2 separate regions of the Homo sapiens genome follow, and region 1 is linked to region 2. The links come from fine-mapping of genetic effects on gene expression. Tissue or cell type: whole blood. Region 2 holds a variant in brackets; the other region holds the start of a gene. All regions are shown on one strand. Distances are from middle to middle.

Evidence for each region. PIP is the estimated chance that this variant, and not a neighbour inherited with it, causes the effect.
Region 1: CAMKK2 starts here. The variant in region 2 is fine-mapped to the expression of CAMKK2 in whole blood (TOPMed, PIP above 0.99).

Annotation. Positions count from the first base shown.
Region 1 is chr12:121,293,282-121,301,281 of GRCh38, reverse strand. It overlaps CAMKK2 (calcium/calmodulin dependent protein kinase kinase 2), which reads left to right and starts at 4,573. Exons shown (of 17, transcript NM_001270485.2): 1 at 4,573-4,644. RefSeq lists a silencer at 3,888-5,037.
Region 2 is chr12:121,270,688-121,278,947 of GRCh38, reverse strand. It overlaps CAMKK2 (calcium/calmodulin dependent protein kinase kinase 2), which reads left to right. Exons shown (of 17, transcript NM_001270485.2): 2 at 4,363-4,892; 3 at 8,003-8,050. The coding sequence starts at 4,422. Among named protein-coding and RNA genes, the nearest start is that of CAMKK2, 22 kb to the left of the region's middle. The variant G/A (reference allele first, on the strand shown) is at 4,450.

The DNA.
Region 1 (8,000 bases), 22 kb before region 2:
GCAGCAAGAGCAAAACTCCGTCTCAAAAAAAAAAAAAAAGAATTGCAACTGTGAGACCAGGCAGCAAGAGCAAAACTCCGTCTCAAAAAAAAAAAAAAAAAAAGAATTGCAACTGTGAGACCAGGCAGCAAGAGCAAAACTCCGTCTCAAAAAAAAAAAAAAAAAGGAATTGCAACTGTGAGACCAGGCAGCAAGAGCAAACCTCCGTCTCAAAAAAAAAAAAAAAAAAAGAATTGCAACTGTGAGACCAGGCAGCAAGAGCAAAACTCCGTCTCAAAAAAAAAAAAAAAAAGAATTGCAACTGTGATGTTTCTGTCCTGTTCTAATTAACTTTAATAAGGAAAGCACATATATTGATGGGGGTTTTAGCTTTGTGCTAATTTTAATTAGTTAGCATCATTGAAGACTTATGTACCAAGCACAGAGCTAGTATCTTTACATACATACATCGTTAGATTTAAACCTCATGGGAAACCTGTGAGCTAGATACTATTATTATCCCCATTTGACAGCTGACGAAACCAAATTGGGAGAGATCAAGTCATTTGCCCAAGGCCACAGAGCTGGTAACTAGTGAAACTGGGATGTGAACAAAATCTATCTGACTTCAGGGTCATTGCTGTCACCCACAATGCGGAGAGTATACAAAGGTTTCAGATGTGGTACCTGCCTAGATGCCAGGAAGATATAGGTCTATTGGCAAGTCAAAACACAGAGTGAAAAAGGAAGGAATAAAGAAGGAAGGGAGGTGGCTGAGCATCAAATAAATGGTACAGTCCTTGCTTTAAGACATCAGAGAGAGGAGCGGGCAGGGAGGGCCTGGCTCACAGCATTTCAGGAAACTATCAGGAAAAGCAACTCTTGAGCTAGGGTTTGGATTTGTAGGGGCACTTCCCAACCTTTCTTACTTAATTGGCTTTTAAGTTTACACAGCTGTGTGTATATCTAAGTTTCTGCCTGTGTGAGCTACAGTGTTCTAATAAAACACAGGCAATTTAGTAACATGATGTAAACATACAGAATTGTTTAACAAGTACCAGGAAAAGACATCCAGTAACAGGAAAGGACACCCAAATCTATTTTGGTTACCTTAGTAAAGCAGGGTTGCCAAACTATTTATTGCCCATAAGCTAAATCTGTCATGCCACCTGTTTTTTATGGCCTGCTAAGAATGGTTTTTACGTTTTTCTTTTTTCTTTTTGTCAAGATGGGTCTTGCCATGTTGTCCAGGCTGGTCTCAAACTTCTAGGCTCAAGTGATCCTGCCCCCTCGGCCTCCCAGAGTGCTAAGATTGTAATCACGCGTGTAGGTGTAAGCCACCACACCTGGCCTTTCACATTTTTCAATGGTTAAATAAAAACCAAAACAGTAATATTTTGTGACTTATGAAAATCATATGAAATTCAGTTTTCAGTGTCTGTAAATAAAGTTTTATTGGAACACTGCCGCATGCATTCATTTACTATTTCCTGTGGCTGCTAGGATGGCAGGGTTGAGTAGCTGCATTACAGAGCCTATGGCTTGCAAAGCCTAAAATATTTACTATCTGGCCCTTTACAAAGTTTGCTGACCCTGCCTTAAAGTGCCCCAGATAATCTCCACCAGGCCTGATACATATTTTTTTTGGGGGGGGGGGGGGAAATATGAGAATATAGAAAAATACGGGACTATGCATCCCCCATTCAGAATTGACTATTGCTAACAGTTTGCCATTTGCCTCACAGCCATTTATAAGTACTAAAAGGAATAAAACTTTACAACATTCCTTATGCTCCCTGTCCCGTTCTGTGCTTTTTTCCTTCTTTGTGGCACACTGTCATGAATTTAATGTATATTCTTCTCTTTGACTTTAAAAATCTTGTATGTAAGCATGTGTCCATGAACAGTATCTACTGCATGGGATTTTAAGGTACACACAAATTGTACATCATGTTGTATTCTGCAACTTGCTGTTTTACTCAACATTATGTTTTTGGGATTTCCTTATGTCAGTACAGATCCAGTGCACCCCTTTTATCTATTAGATGGTATTCCATCAAACAACTATAATGAGTTTCATTTATCCATTCCTTTGATGAACATATAGGAAGTTGTTCCCAGGTGGTTTTTTTTTTGTGTTTTTGTTTTGTTTTGTTTTGTTTTTGAGATGGAGTCTTGCTCTGTCACCCAGGCTGGAGTGCAGTGGCATGATCTCGGCTCACTGCAACCTCTGCCTCCCGGGTTTCAAGCGATTCTCCTGCCTCAGCCTCCTGAGTAGTTGGGATTACAGGCGCGCGCCACCATGCCTGGCTAATTTTTGCATTTTTTTTTTAAGTAGAGACGGGGTTTCACCATGCTGGTCAGGCTGGACTTGAACTCCTGACTTCGTGATCTGCCCACCTTGGCCTCCCAAAGTGCTGGGATTACAGGCGTGAGCCACTGTGCCCAGACTTTTTTTTTTTTTTTTGAAACAGTCTTGGTCTGTCGTCCAGGCTGGAGGGTAGTGGTGCGATCTCTCTGCCTCCCGGTTCAAGTGGTTCTCGTGCTTCAGCCTCCTGAGTAGCTGGGATTACGGGCACCGCCACCACACCGGGCTAATTTTTGTATTTTTGATAGAGATGGGGTTTCACCATGCTGGCCAGGCTAGTCTCGAACTTCTGGCCTCAAGTGATCTCTCCGCCCGGGCCTCCCAAAGTGCTGGGATCATAGGCGTGAGCCACCATGCCCGGCCTCAGGTTTTTGCCATTTCCAGCAAATGCATGCACGTTGAGTAACATCAGAAGAGGTGGATGGCCGAGCATGTTGGCTCATGCCTATAATCCCAGCACTTTGGGAGGCAGAGGCAGGAGGATCACTTGAGCCCAGGAGTTTGAGACCAGCCTGGGCAACATAGGGAGAACTCTGTCTCTACAAAAAATAGAAAAAATTAGCCAGGTGTGGTGGTGTGTGCCTGTAGTCCCAGCTACTCAGGAGGCTGAGGCTGGAGGATCACCTGAGCCTGGGGAGGTCGAGGGTGCAGCGAGCCGTGATCGTGCTACTGCACTCCAGCCTGGGCAACACAGAGAGACCCTGTCTCAAAACAAACAAACAAACAAACAAACAAACAAACAAAAAAAACAAAGAAAAAAAAATGGGAGTGGGCCGGGCGCGGTGACTCACACCTGTAATCCCAGCACTTTCGGAGGCCAAGGCGGGTGGATCACGAGGTCAGGAATTCAAGATTAGCCTGGACAACATGGTGAAACCCCATCTCTACGAAAAATACAAAAATTAGCCAAGTATGGTGGCCGGCGCCTGTAATCCCAGCTACTCGGGAGACTGAGGCAGAGAACTGCTTGAACCTGGGAGGCAGAGGTTGCAGTGATCCGAGATCGCGTCACTGCACTCCAGCGTGGGCGACAGAGCGAGACTCCGTTTCAGAAAAGAAAAAAAAAAAAAAAAAAAAGGGAGTCGGGGTGGAGCTCTCATTGGCTCGTTGCATGTGAGTGTCCCTACGGCCTAGAAATACAAGAGAAGCACATCGGAACGGGCTGGAAATCCACCCAGTTAACTAGAGGGCTTTGAACCTTTTATTAACTTGGAGGTTGACTCTCCTGTCAACTCGATTCCCTTTTGGCTGTTTGGCAGGGTCAGTGAGACATCCCCTGGGTCGCTCGACCCCGTAGGACGGTTCAGGGAGCCCTCCAGGTCTTCGTTTCTCCTCTTCCCCGCACAGTGCTGTTATCCAGCTGGGGGATCCAACGCACACTTAAGGCTCCAGCAAAGTAAGTGCCAAAAAGGGGAGAATGGGAAGAATATGCTGTATTTCACAAAAAGCATCTAAGTAGCCATCTGGAAAAGCCAGAATGAACTTCAATGGTGCATCCAGGTGGGCTGGGGATGGGAGAGGAACGCCTTCCCCCAGCCTTTAGGGCCGGCCCTGAGCAAGTGGTCAGTCGGCAGGCAGCTGCGGAAGGGGGCTCCCCCGAGTCGGTGGTGGCCCAAAGTCCAGGCCGCATCCACCGCCCGGCGCCTAGCGCAGGGGCAGCAGCCGGGTCGCCACAGGAGGGGCCCCGGGTGTTCTTGCCGGCTTGGGGGAACTTTCCCAGGGTCAGCCCGGAGGCGCCCTGCAGCCCCGGCATTTGGCTAAACAAAGCAAGCGCTGCCGGCGCGGCCCGCCCGAGGGCGCCGCGGGAAGAACCTGGGCAGGTGCGCGCCGCGGGCGAGCGGGTACAAAGTTGCGGCGCCACCTCCTGCGCTCCGCGCCCCTCCAGGCTCTCCTCCCAGCCGCCTCCGATCCTCCCGGCCGGGCCTCTCTTCCCCCGTTCTTCGCCTCCTCCCTTTCTGCTCCTTGCCCTTCGCCTCTTCGCTACTTTCGTCTTTGCAGGCTCCCGCCTCCCCACCCCTCCCCGGCGCAGGGCCGAGCCGGCGGGGGCGCGCAGGGGGCGGTGCGCGGCGGGCGCGGGCGGTTCCGCTTTCGGGTTTCCCGCCGCCGTGGCCAATCCCCGCGCTGCCCGGGGCGGCGACGCGCCCAAGCCGAGCCGGGCGGCTCCTCCCGCCCCCGCCCCCCGCGCGCCCGCCGCCCGGGCGGAGGAGAGGAGCGCGCGGCCGCGCAGAGCAAGCTGAGCCGAGCCGAGCCGAGCTGGGGGCGCAGAGCGCGGGAGGCGGCGGCGGCGCGGAGCCCAGGTGAGCTGGCGGTAGCCGGGCCCGGGGCAAGGGACGCAGCCGCCGCGGCCCCGGGCGCCCGCTCCGTTTCCCTCTCGAGGCGGGGGACCGCCGCCGGCATGGCACACAAAGCCCGGAGGCTGGCCTGGGGCTCCCAACACGGAGGGACCCCACGTGCGCCTCCCCACGCCCCGCCACGTGGAGGGACACGGTCCCCGACAGCCCTTCCCCCGCGTCCTCTGGGCGCCCTGGGCCTCGGGATGGCCTCCTCGGCTGGGCCGCGCCCTGTCCGGGTGGCAGGGGCGGTCCTGGAGTTTGGAACCGGGGTCACCGGGGGCCGGGTCCGTCAGGGTTCGTGGAGGCGGCCTAGGCCCAGCCCCTCGCGTTTGACAGGTGGGGAAATCTGGAGCGTTCCGGGGAAGAGAGGACCAGCGGACTTGGAGCACCCCCACCCCGCAGCCTGCCTGTCTCGGGGCAAACCCAGGCCCTGGTGGCTTGGACACCAGGTGGCAGGACCCTAGGCCAGCAGTTGTGGGGACCTAGGGGACCTTTGGCTGTCTTCGGTCTGCCCTTTGACCACCCCCACCGCACCTCTTCTCTCAGCCGGAGCCTCACAGGCTTGGTCCTTCTGACCTAAATTCACCTCGGGGTTGCAGTATGCTGTGAATGCGGAGAGGCGTCCGCCTGACTCTCAGGGACACTGGACCCAGCCCCTCTCAGCATTGGGGCTCTGTGCCTGGGGTGCCACCCGACCCAGCCTTGAGCTTTTCCTGGCTTTCCCCCAGCCCCTGCACTGCCTAGCTGGGGAAGTGGGTGCTTTCACAGCTCTGCCAGCCTGCCCTCCTGGCCACTCTCACTTAGTGCTGGACAGGATGCAGCTCAGCCCCTCCGATCTCCCCGAGAAGGCTGAGCTTTGGGGAGGGCGTCTCAGTGCTATCAGCAAGAGAGGGATACCTGGCCTCCGGATGGGACCTGCAGCGTCCATCTCCCTACAGGCTACTTTTACCTTCCCCAGCCTGGTGTTTGGAGTCTCCACGCAGGGGATAGAAACTTCAGGTGCCCTAGAGCTGTGCTGCCATTTACCACTCCCCCTCCCCTAGCTCTGCCCCCAGAGGAGAGAGAAGAGGATGGCTTTATGTCCCCATAAGCTCCTTTGTTCCTTGGAGGAGGCGGGGGCTGCAACAAGGGGAGGGCTTTGGGGGAGTTAGCCACCCTCTTCCCTAATCACCCCACAAAAACATGCAGTTTCAGAATAAATAGTGTGCATGCCATGCAAATGCAGCTTTAGGGCAAGCCCCACATACCCCTTCCAGACTGCTGCTCATACACCCTTCCTATGGAGGAAGCAGGCATTGGTGACACACACCCTTCCTATGGAGGAAGCAGGCATTGGTGATGAGGACGCAAAACATATTTTTGTAATGAAGAGTAATAGCCATCATTTGATGAGCCCCTAACTTGGATAATAATAAGAATACTTATTTATTTATTTTGAGACGGAGTCTCTGTTGCCCAGGGTGGAGTGCAGTGGCACAATCTTGGCTCACTGCAACCTCCGCCTCCCGGGTTCAAGCGATTCTCATGCCTCAGCCTCTCCAGTAGCTGGGATTACAGGCGCCCACCACCATGCCTGGCTAATTTCTGTATTTTTAGTAGAGAAGGGGTTTCACCATGTTGGTCAGGCTGGTCTTGAACTCCTTACCTCAAGTGATCCGCCTACGTCAGTCTCCCAAGTGCTAGGATTACAGGCATGAGCTGCCACCTGGCCCTGGACAATAATAATAATAACAGTATTAAAAACTAACATCTATTGAGTTCTTGCTGCCTGCCAGATTCTGTGCTATGTGTTACATGCATTATCTCATTTAATGCCTACCAAATCCTACAACGTAGGGAATTTTAACCCCATAGTAGAGATTAGGAGACTGAGGTTTACAGAAATCCTGCAGTGTTGCTAGGATTTAGCCCCATTTTATAGAAGGGCTCAGAGAAGTTAAGTAACTTGCTCAGGGTCACACAGCCAGTGCAGGCATGTCAGGCCTTAGAACCTTTGTGCACCTGTTCAAGAGCAGAGACCCTGGCAAGGCTGCCCTGAGCTTCTTGAGGAGCCCAGGAGTTTGTTTTGTTTTGTTTATTCACTACATCAGTGTTTGCCGATGCAGCTCTATGCAGGGTCTGTAGTACTGCCCATCCTTAGATATGGCTAGTGGGCTGGTAGCTAAATATAGTCACTAATAACAATGCACTAGTTCTCATCCGGGGGTGGTCCCACCCTCCTGGCAGGGATTTGGGAAAGTGTGGGGGCGACTTTTGGTTGTCAAAATGATGCTAAGCACTCCTGGCTTTTAGTGGGCGGGAGTCAGGGATGCCTACTAAAGTGTCCTGTAGGCAGGCCAGGGCCACGACATAAAGAATCACCCTCCCCTGGCTGGGCGTGGTGGCTCACGCTTGTAATCCCAGCACTTTGGGAGGCCGAGGCAGGAGGATCACCTGAGGTCAGGAGTTCGAGACCAGCCTGGCCAACATGGTGAAACCCCATCTCTACTAAAAATACAAAAATTAGCTGGGCGTGGTGGCACACACCTGTAATCCCAGCTACTTGGGAGGCTGAGGCAGGAGAATCACTTGAACCTGGAAGGCGGAGGTTGCAGTGTGCTGAGATCGTGCCATTGCACTCCAGCGTGGGGCACAAGAAGGAGACTTCCTCTCAAAAAACAAACAAAAAACAAAAAAAAATCACCCTCCCCCAAATGCCAGCAGTGCCACTGTTGAGAAACACCACAAGGAATGAGTGCTGTTGTGATCGAAGGAGCACAGGGCACTGAGGGTTCTGGAGAAATCTCCTCAGACTGGTGTGAATCTGGGAGGCTCCCTGAAGGAGGTGTCATTTGTGCAGAGCCTTGAAGGATGGGCCAGAAATGGGAGATGGGATGGGAGTAGGAGGGGAAGGGGATAGGGTGGGGTGACCTAGCAGGGAACTTTGTGCAGTAGCCGGGGGTTTCCTCTTTGAGAACCTCATCCTAGATGGAAGATGAGTGGCCAGACACCACTCTCAGGGGAGAGGACCAGGCCAAGTGGGGCAGGCCAAGCCTGTTTTCAAGGCATTTTGGCTCAAATTTTAACATGGGCCACAGAATCACCATTATTCTATCAACTCATTTTATGGAAGCCTCTTTATATGAAGGGCTCAGAGAGGCTGAGTAATTTGCTCAGGGTCACCTGTGATCTTCTTCCCGCCCCAGCATACTTTCTTCTGGTGGTTATGGGAAACATTTCATTTCCTGATCCTGGGGATTTGGGGCAAATGCTATTTCAGATTTTCCTTTAAATCAGAGGGTCTTATATTGCTTATTGCTTTGCTTTGTTTCTTTTCTTTT
Region 2 (8,260 bases):
TGCCTGCCCTGGGGGACGCAGGCCACACAGCCAGGGCTGAGGGACACACTTAAGAGCAGGCCAGCTCGCTTGGACATTGGTCCTCGTGGGAACATTCCAGAGCATAGGCTACCTACCAGAGCAGGCCATGGGCATCTGTATTAGTCCGTTTTCACGCTGCTGATAAAGACATACCCGAGACTGGGCAATTTACAACAGAAAGGTTTAACTGGACTTATAGTTCCACTTGGCTGGGGAAGCCCCATAATCATGGCGGAAGTCAAGGAGGAGCAAGTCCGGTCTTACATGGACGGCAGCAGGCAGCGAGAATGAGGAAGATGCAAAAGCGGAACCCCCTGATAAAACCATCAGATCTCGTGAGGCTTACCACCATGAGAACAGTATGGGGGAACCCGCCCCCGTGATTCAATTATCTCCCACTGGGTCCCTCCCACAACACACGGGAATTATGGGAGTACAATTCAAGGTGAGATTTGGGAGAGGACACAGAGTCAAACCATAGCATCCAACAGGTGTTTGTTGAAGTAATAGTTTTTGAGTACTTAACCACTTGCAGGGCATGATTCTGAGTGCTTGGTTCATCTAATCCTATGACTATCAGATGGGCACCAACTTTACAGGATGTCAATGACCTTAAGCTGTTGAACTTCAGGGTATCTTGAGTTTCCTCTTCTGGGACATAAGGACCATGAGAAGGAGAAGTAAAGTAGCAGCAGCTAGGGCCATAGAGAAATATCAAACTTGAGTTGTATTCTCTCATTGATGGGGAAACTGAGACAGGGACAGAGTTGATGATTTCTTTCTGAGATACAGTAAGGGGGAATGGGGGACAGAGAAATAGGAGATAAGACCAACTGCTCCCCTCTCCTGACCTCCTGCCCCGTCTGATCCCGTAGCATCCTAGGCCTTATCATCATAACTCCGATCATGGTTACAGGTATTTTCTTTCCTTTAAAACACTTTTTATTTATTTATTTATTTTAGATGGAGTCTTGCTCTGTTACCCAGGCTGGAGTGCAGTGGCGCAATCTCGCCTCACTGCAACCTGTGCCTCCCGGGTTCAAGTGATTCTCCTGCTTCAGCCTCCTGAGTAGCTGGGATGACAGGTGCCCAACACCACGCCTGGCTAATTTTTGTATTTTTAGTAGAGATGGGGTTTCACCATATTGGCCGGGCTTATCTGGAACTCCTAACCTCAAGTGATCTGCCTGCCTTGGCCTCCCAAGGTGTTGGGATTACAGGTGCGAACCACTGCATCTGGCCTGAATTTGACTATTCTAGATACTTCATGTAACTGAAATCTTACAACACTTGTCCTTTAGTATCTGGCTTGCTTCACTTAGCGTATGTCTTCACGGTTCGTCTGTGTTGTAGTGTGAGTCAGAGTTTCCTTCTTTTTTGTGGCTGTATAGTATTCTGTTGTATGGCTCTGCCACATTTTGTTTATTCATTCGTCTGTTGATGGACACTTGGTTATACCTTTTGGCTATTGTGAATGATGTTGCTATGAACATTAGTGTACAAGTATCCGTTTGAATCCCTACCTTCAATTCTTTTGGGTCTATACCTAGGAGAGGAATTGCTGGTTATATGGCAACTCTACGTTTAACTTTTTGGGGAGCCACCAGGCTGCCTGATTGTAGTTTGAATTTGCAGTTCTCTTACTGTGAGGTTGAACATCTTGCCGCATGATTGGACTCTTTGGCGTTCTCTTACCACACACTCTGTGTGCATGAGTCAGGCCCGTGTCAGGGCTGGGGCGTTGGGTTTTCCCTTTTGCCTTTCCTGTTGGGCTTTCCCTGCCACGTGCCTGGCGTAGTAGCTATTTCATCAGTTCTTCTGGAAGGACCGTTCCGAGAGCGCTGAGGGCCATTTTCTGCCTCTCAGCCAGATCCTCCAGGGAGCTCTGGCTTTCCGCTGTCTGTACCTTCCTCTCTTTTACCCCACTACCTCCCAATGTCATCGGAGATACCATTTTATTCATTCATAAAATCTCTGCTGAGCCCTCACTGTTTTCCTGGGACATCTAGAGAGACCCCCCCCCCACCCCGCCCTTTTTTTTTGAGATGGAGTCTCCCTCTGTTGGCAGGCTGGTGTGCAGTGGTGCAACCTCAGCTCACTGCAACCTCCGCCTCCCAGGTTCAAGCAATTCTCCTGCCTCAGCCTCTCCAGTAGCTAGGATTATAGGCATGAGCCACTACACCTGGCTTATTGTTGTATTTTTAGTAGAGACGGGGTTTCACCATGTTGGCCAGGATGGTCCAGAGAGACCCTTTGTGATGTGGGTGATTAGCATGGAGTGGCCATCATCCACAGGTGTCTGTCCACAAATGTACTCCCTGAATTCCAGTGGTACCTGTGACATTTGTCCAGCAGAATTTGTCAAACACGTTAAGCAAAGGTTAATGTTCTGTCCCAGAGACGGTAAGAATTGACAGCCTAAGGGGATGTGTTAATCTTTTTTATTTTTATTTTTTGAGATGAGTCTTGTTCAGTCACCCAGGCTGCAGTGCAGTGGTGCGATCTCGGCTCAGTCATTGCAACCTTCACCTCCCGGATTCAAGTGATTCTCCTGCCTCAGCCTCCCGAGTAGCTGGGATTACAGGTGCCCACCACCATGCCCAGGTAATTTTTGTATTTTTAGTAGAGATGGGGTTTCACCAGGTTGGCCAGGCTGGTCTTGAACTCCTGACCTCAGGTGATCCACCTGCCTTGGCCTCCCAAAGTGCTGGGAGGATTACAGGTATGAACCACTGTGTCCGACTTCTCTCTCTTTTTTTTTTTTTTTGAGATGGAGTCTCACTCTGTCATCCAGGCTGAAGTGCAGTGGCGTGATCTCGGCTCATTGCAACCTCCGCCTCCCGGGTTCAAGTGATTCTCCTGCCTCAGCCTCCTGAGTAGCTGGGACTACAGGTGTACATCACCACACTTGGCTAATTTTTGTATTTTTAGTAGAGATGGGGTTTCACCATGTTGGTCAGGCTGGCCTTGAACTCCTGACCTCATGATCCACCCGCCCTGTCCTCCCAAAGTGCTGAGATTACAGGCGTGAGCTGCCGTGCCTGGCCTTTTTTAAAAAATTGAGATATAAGTTCATGTAACATAAGTTGGCCATTTTGAAGTGTATAGTTCAGTGGCATTTAGTACGTTCACAATGCTGTGCAACCATTACCTCTATCTAGTTTCAAAACGTTTTGATCACCCCAAAAGGAAAACCTGTGCCCATTAAGCAGCCATTCCCCACACCCACTAATGTCACCACCCCCATAGTCCTAGGCAACCATTAGTCTACTTTCTGTCTCTGTGGAGTTGCATATTTTAAAAATTTCATATAAATAGAATCATATATATGTGACCTTTTGTGACTGGCTTCCTTCAGTTAGCATAATATTTTAGAGGTTCATCCATATTGTGGCATATACTTGATTCCCCCCGACCTTTTTTTTTTTTTTTTTTTTGAGACAGTCTTGGTCTATTGCTGAGTTGCTGAGGCTGGAGTGCAGTGGCATGATCTCGGCTCACTGCAACCTCCGCCTCCTGGATTCCAGCGATTCTCCTGCCTCAGCCTCCTGAGTAGCTGGGATTACAGGCACACGCCACCATGCCCGGCTAATTTTTGTATTTTTAGTAGAGATGAGGTTTCACCATGTTGGCCAGGCTGATCTGGAATTCCTGGCTTCAAGTAATCTGCCTGCCTTGGCCTCCCAAAATGCTAGGATTACAGGTGTGAGCCACCGTGTCCAGCCCTGACCTGCATTGTTAATGCCCAGCATTTAAAAATAAAAAGTCAGGCAAACTTATTAACCTCCTTAGGGCTTCTCTTGGGAAAAACAAAGGGAAGACCAGCAATAGTAGGCCCAGATTCCTGCCGAGCAACAATTGGCTTGAGCTGGAAGCAGCTGTCAATTCTGTAGGGGATATGTGTGCTCTATTTGGGGGTTTTCTTATACTTGTTCCTATAGGAATTGAGTTAGGAATTATTGTCATGGTATGTGAGAAGTGGTTCCAGCTACTTGGGAGGCTGAGATGGGAGGATCACTTGAGCCTAGGAGTTCAAGGGTACAGTGAGCTATGATCGCACCACTGTACTCCAGCCTGGGCAACAGAGAGAGGGAGAGACCTTGTCTCAAAAAAAAAAAAAAGAAAAAAAAAGAAAAAATAATAAAAGAAAAAATATAAGAAGATGCAGACTCTGCTTTTCTGTATAGACTCAGAGATCAGATCACACCATGTTTTGCAAGATTTTTTTAGGATGTCAACTGGAGGCAGGAATTAGACAGCAGCCTGGGCCAGGAGGAGAGGGGATCCTTTCCTGTCCCTGCCCGTAGGAGCTGGGCCAGCTGACCCTTTCTCTTTCTGCAGGTGGCTCCGCTGCCGGATGGGAGTGCCCCAGTGTGCTGGATGAAGCTGGCGCATGCACCATGTCATCATGTGTCTCTAGCCAGCCCA[G/A]CAGCAACCGGGCCGCCCCCCAGGATGAGCTGGGGGGCAGGGGCAGCAGCAGCAGCGAAAGCCAGAAGCCCTGTGAGGCCCTGCGGGGCCTCTCATCCTTGAGCATCCACCTGGGCATGGAGTCCTTCATTGTGGTCACCGAGTGTGAGCCGGGCTGTGCTGTGGACCTCGGCTTGGCGCGGGACCGGCCCCTGGAGGCCGATGGCCAAGAGGTCCCCCTTGACACCTCCGGGTCCCAGGCCCGGCCCCACCTCTCCGGTCGCAAGCTGTCTCTGCAAGAGCGGTCCCAGGGTGGGCTGGCAGCCGGTGGCAGCCTGGACATGAACGGACGCTGCATCTGCCCGTCCCTGCCCTACTCACCCGTCAGCTCCCCGCAGTCCTCGCCTCGGCTGCCCCGGCGGCCGACAGTGGAGTCTCACCACGTCTCCATCACGGGTATGCAGGTGCGTGAGCCGGTGGTGAGCCAGGTCCTAGGGGTCCCTGGTGCCCTTCCCTGCCCCCAGCAGGGCCTCTGTGGAAGGTTGGGCTCCCCCAGAAGGATCTGAGTGCCACGGTTGACCTAGGAGTTGACTCCAGGGAACCTTGGGGGCGGCTGGGGCCAAAAAGGGGCCCTAGGGGGGTCGTGAATCAGCATGGGGAAGGGAAGGCAGTCAGCAAAGGGTGGGTCATGGAGCCGATTACCAGTGTGGAGTGTGGGCCGCTGGGGCTTTTTCCTTCCGTGGGACCCTGGGGAACAGCACAGAGCAGCAGCCTCAGTCATCCCACCAGGGGCAAGGGAGCTGGGGTATTTATACTCATGGGTGAGGGCTGCTGGGGCAGGTGTGTGTGACCCCCTGTGGGTGTGGACAGAGCAGTTGCAGGGCCGGAGGGAGCCTCCAGCAAAGAGACTGAGGTGTGGGCGAAGGTGTGATGGAATGAGGCGGGTCACTGAGAGCCTGGCGACGACCCGCCTGGCCGAGCGTGTGTTGGCACCAGGCACTGGGTTCAGCACTTGCTGTGCATTTCTCACAGGACCCTTACCGTAAACCCTGCGGGGATACAGAGAACTCAGATCCTCACCAGGGTTCACAGGGCCCTGTGTGGTCTGACCCTTTCCCATCCCTCCTGCCATTCTGCTGCCAGCTCCCTAAGCTCCCTCTGTTCCTGCCTTCACATTCCTCGGAATCCAAGCTCTTGCCTTGGGTCTGTACTCTCGCTGTTCCTTCTGCTTGGAACCACCTCCCCCACCACCCCATGCCAACTTTGTAAGGCCTATTCCGATAATGTCCAAGTCTCAACTCCAGTATCACCTCCTCCAAAAGGCTTCCCGGGCCACCATCCCTAAAGCACCCTCCAGCCTCTCTCTGCCCCATGGCCCTATTTGCTTTCCTTCATAACGTTAATCAGCATCTGATTATCTGTGCGTTGGTTTAGTTGTTTATTGCCTGTCTCCACCCAGCCAGAACGTAAGCTCCATAGGATCATTTCATCCACCTCCACACCCTATCCCATCCCCAGAGCCTAGCACAGTACCTGGTGCATAGTAGGAGCGCAAAAATATTTGTTGAAGGAACGAATGAATTTAATTGGAAGAAGACCCAACATCAGGATGCCTTTCTAAAGGGGCTTTTTTTTGTTGTTGTTGTTGAGACAGAGGGTTGCTGTGTTGCCCAGGCTGGAGTGCAGTTGCGTGATTTTGGCTCACTGCAACCTCCACCTCCCAGGTTCAAGCTATTCTCCTCCCTCAGCTCATGAGTAGCTGGGACTACAGGTGTGCACCACCATGCCCAGTTAATTTTTTTTTTTTTTTTTTTTTTTAAGTAGAGATGGGGTAATGCCATGTTGGCCAGGCTGGTCTCGAACTCCTGACCTCAGGTGATCCACCTGCCTCAGCCTCCCAAAGTGCTGGGATTACAGGCATGAGCCACTGTGCACTGCCAAAGGGGCTGATTTTGAAGGGGCTATAGGGACTACATTTTGAAGGCCAGGAAAAACTTTCATAATTGGAGATGAAAATTGGGCCCTGGAGAGTTGAGAGGAGGGAGAATTCACAGCATGAGCCAAAAACAGAGCTAGGACCTATGAGCAATGGCTCCTTTTTAGCTTAGCTTCTTTCACAGCATCATGATTTTGAGATTTATCCATGTTGTGGCGTATATCTGTAGTTCCTTTTTATTGCTGAATAATTTCAATTGTATGGACGTACCACAGTTTGTTTATTCATTTACCTGTTGAAGGACATTTGGATTGCTTCCAATTTTTTATTATTACAACTAAAGCTGTTATTAATATTTATATGCAAGTCTTTGTAAACACATTTTCACTTCTATTGGGTAGAGTGGCCTGTGGTACGGTAGATGTTTGTTAAGAAACTGTCAAGGCCTGGTACAATGGCTTATGCCTGTAATCCCAGCTACTTGGGAGACTGAGGCGGGAGGATCACTTAAGACCAGGAGTTTGAGACCAGCCTGGGCAACATAGGAAGACCCATCTCTACAAAAAACAAAATAGGCTAGGCCCAGTAGCTCACGCCTGTAATCCCAGCATTTTGGGAGGCCAAGGCGGGAGGATAACCTGAGGTCAGGAGTTAGAGACCAGCCTGGCCAACATGGAGAAACCCCATCTCTACTAAAAATACAAAGAATTTAGCTGGGCGTGGTGGTGGGTGCCTGTAATCCCAGCTACTTGGGAGGCTGAGGCAGGAGAATTGCTTGAATCTGGGAGGCGGAGGTTGCGGTGAGCTGAGATTGTGCCATTGCACTCCAGCCTGGGCAACAAGAGCAAAACTCCATCTCAAAAAGAAAAAAAAGCCAAAGTTTTAATTTTGGTGAAGTCCAATTTATCATTTGTTTCTTTTGTCTGTACCTTTTTTGTATTATCTAAGAAACCCTTGTCTACCCCAAGGTTGCACAGACTTGCTTTTCTTGTATCACTTTATGTTTTTACAGGACAATGTAGCCAAGGATTACTTGTTTGATTTAAAATTTACTTTTTAAAAGTAGGAACAACCTTCTTTAAAAAATGGGTTTTACAAGAGTCCACAGTGTGTGGTTACATTTTGACAAAGTACAACAAGCAAAATCAGCGTTGTTAGAAGTCAAGAGAGTGGCCACCTGGGGGAGGGCAGAGGTGCGAGTGGCTTCTGGGAGCTGGGGATGTTCTCTTTCTTGATTTGGGTTCTGGTTACCTGTATGTGTTTAATTTGGAGAAATGTATCTAGTTGCAAACTTTTTTTTTTTTTTTTTTGAGACACAGTTTTACTCTTTTGCCCAGGCTGGAGTGCAATGGTGCAATCTCCGCTCAAGCAACCTCCACCTCCTGGGCTCACGCGATTCTCGTGCCTCAGCCTCCTGAGTAGCTGGGATTACAGGTGCCCACCACCACGCCTGGCTAATTTTTATATTATTAATAGAGATGGGATTTCACCATGTTGGCCAGGCTGGTCTGGAACTCCTGAACTCAAGTGATCCTCCCACCTTGGTCTCCTGAAGGGCTTGTAGGTGTGAGCCACCGTGCCTGGCCTCTAGTTGCAAACTTAAAATTCATTTTGCACGTGTCTCTCCTTACTCTCTAGGACTGTGTGCAGCTGAATCAGTATACCCTGAAGGATGAAATTGGAAAGGTAAATATCCCTGGGGCTAGGCTGGCTTTCTGCATTCACCAGGGGCGTTCAGATACTGTGGAGGGAACGGGGTAAAGCTGGGAGCAGGAGAGGAGTCTTTGAAGGCGAGGTTGGTGGAGAGGGTTTTGTCATTAATGATCTAGGTTTTTGGTTTAGTTTTGTTTTCTTGTATCTTAAAATTAAATATGTTTCTGCAGAAGCTCAGAAAGC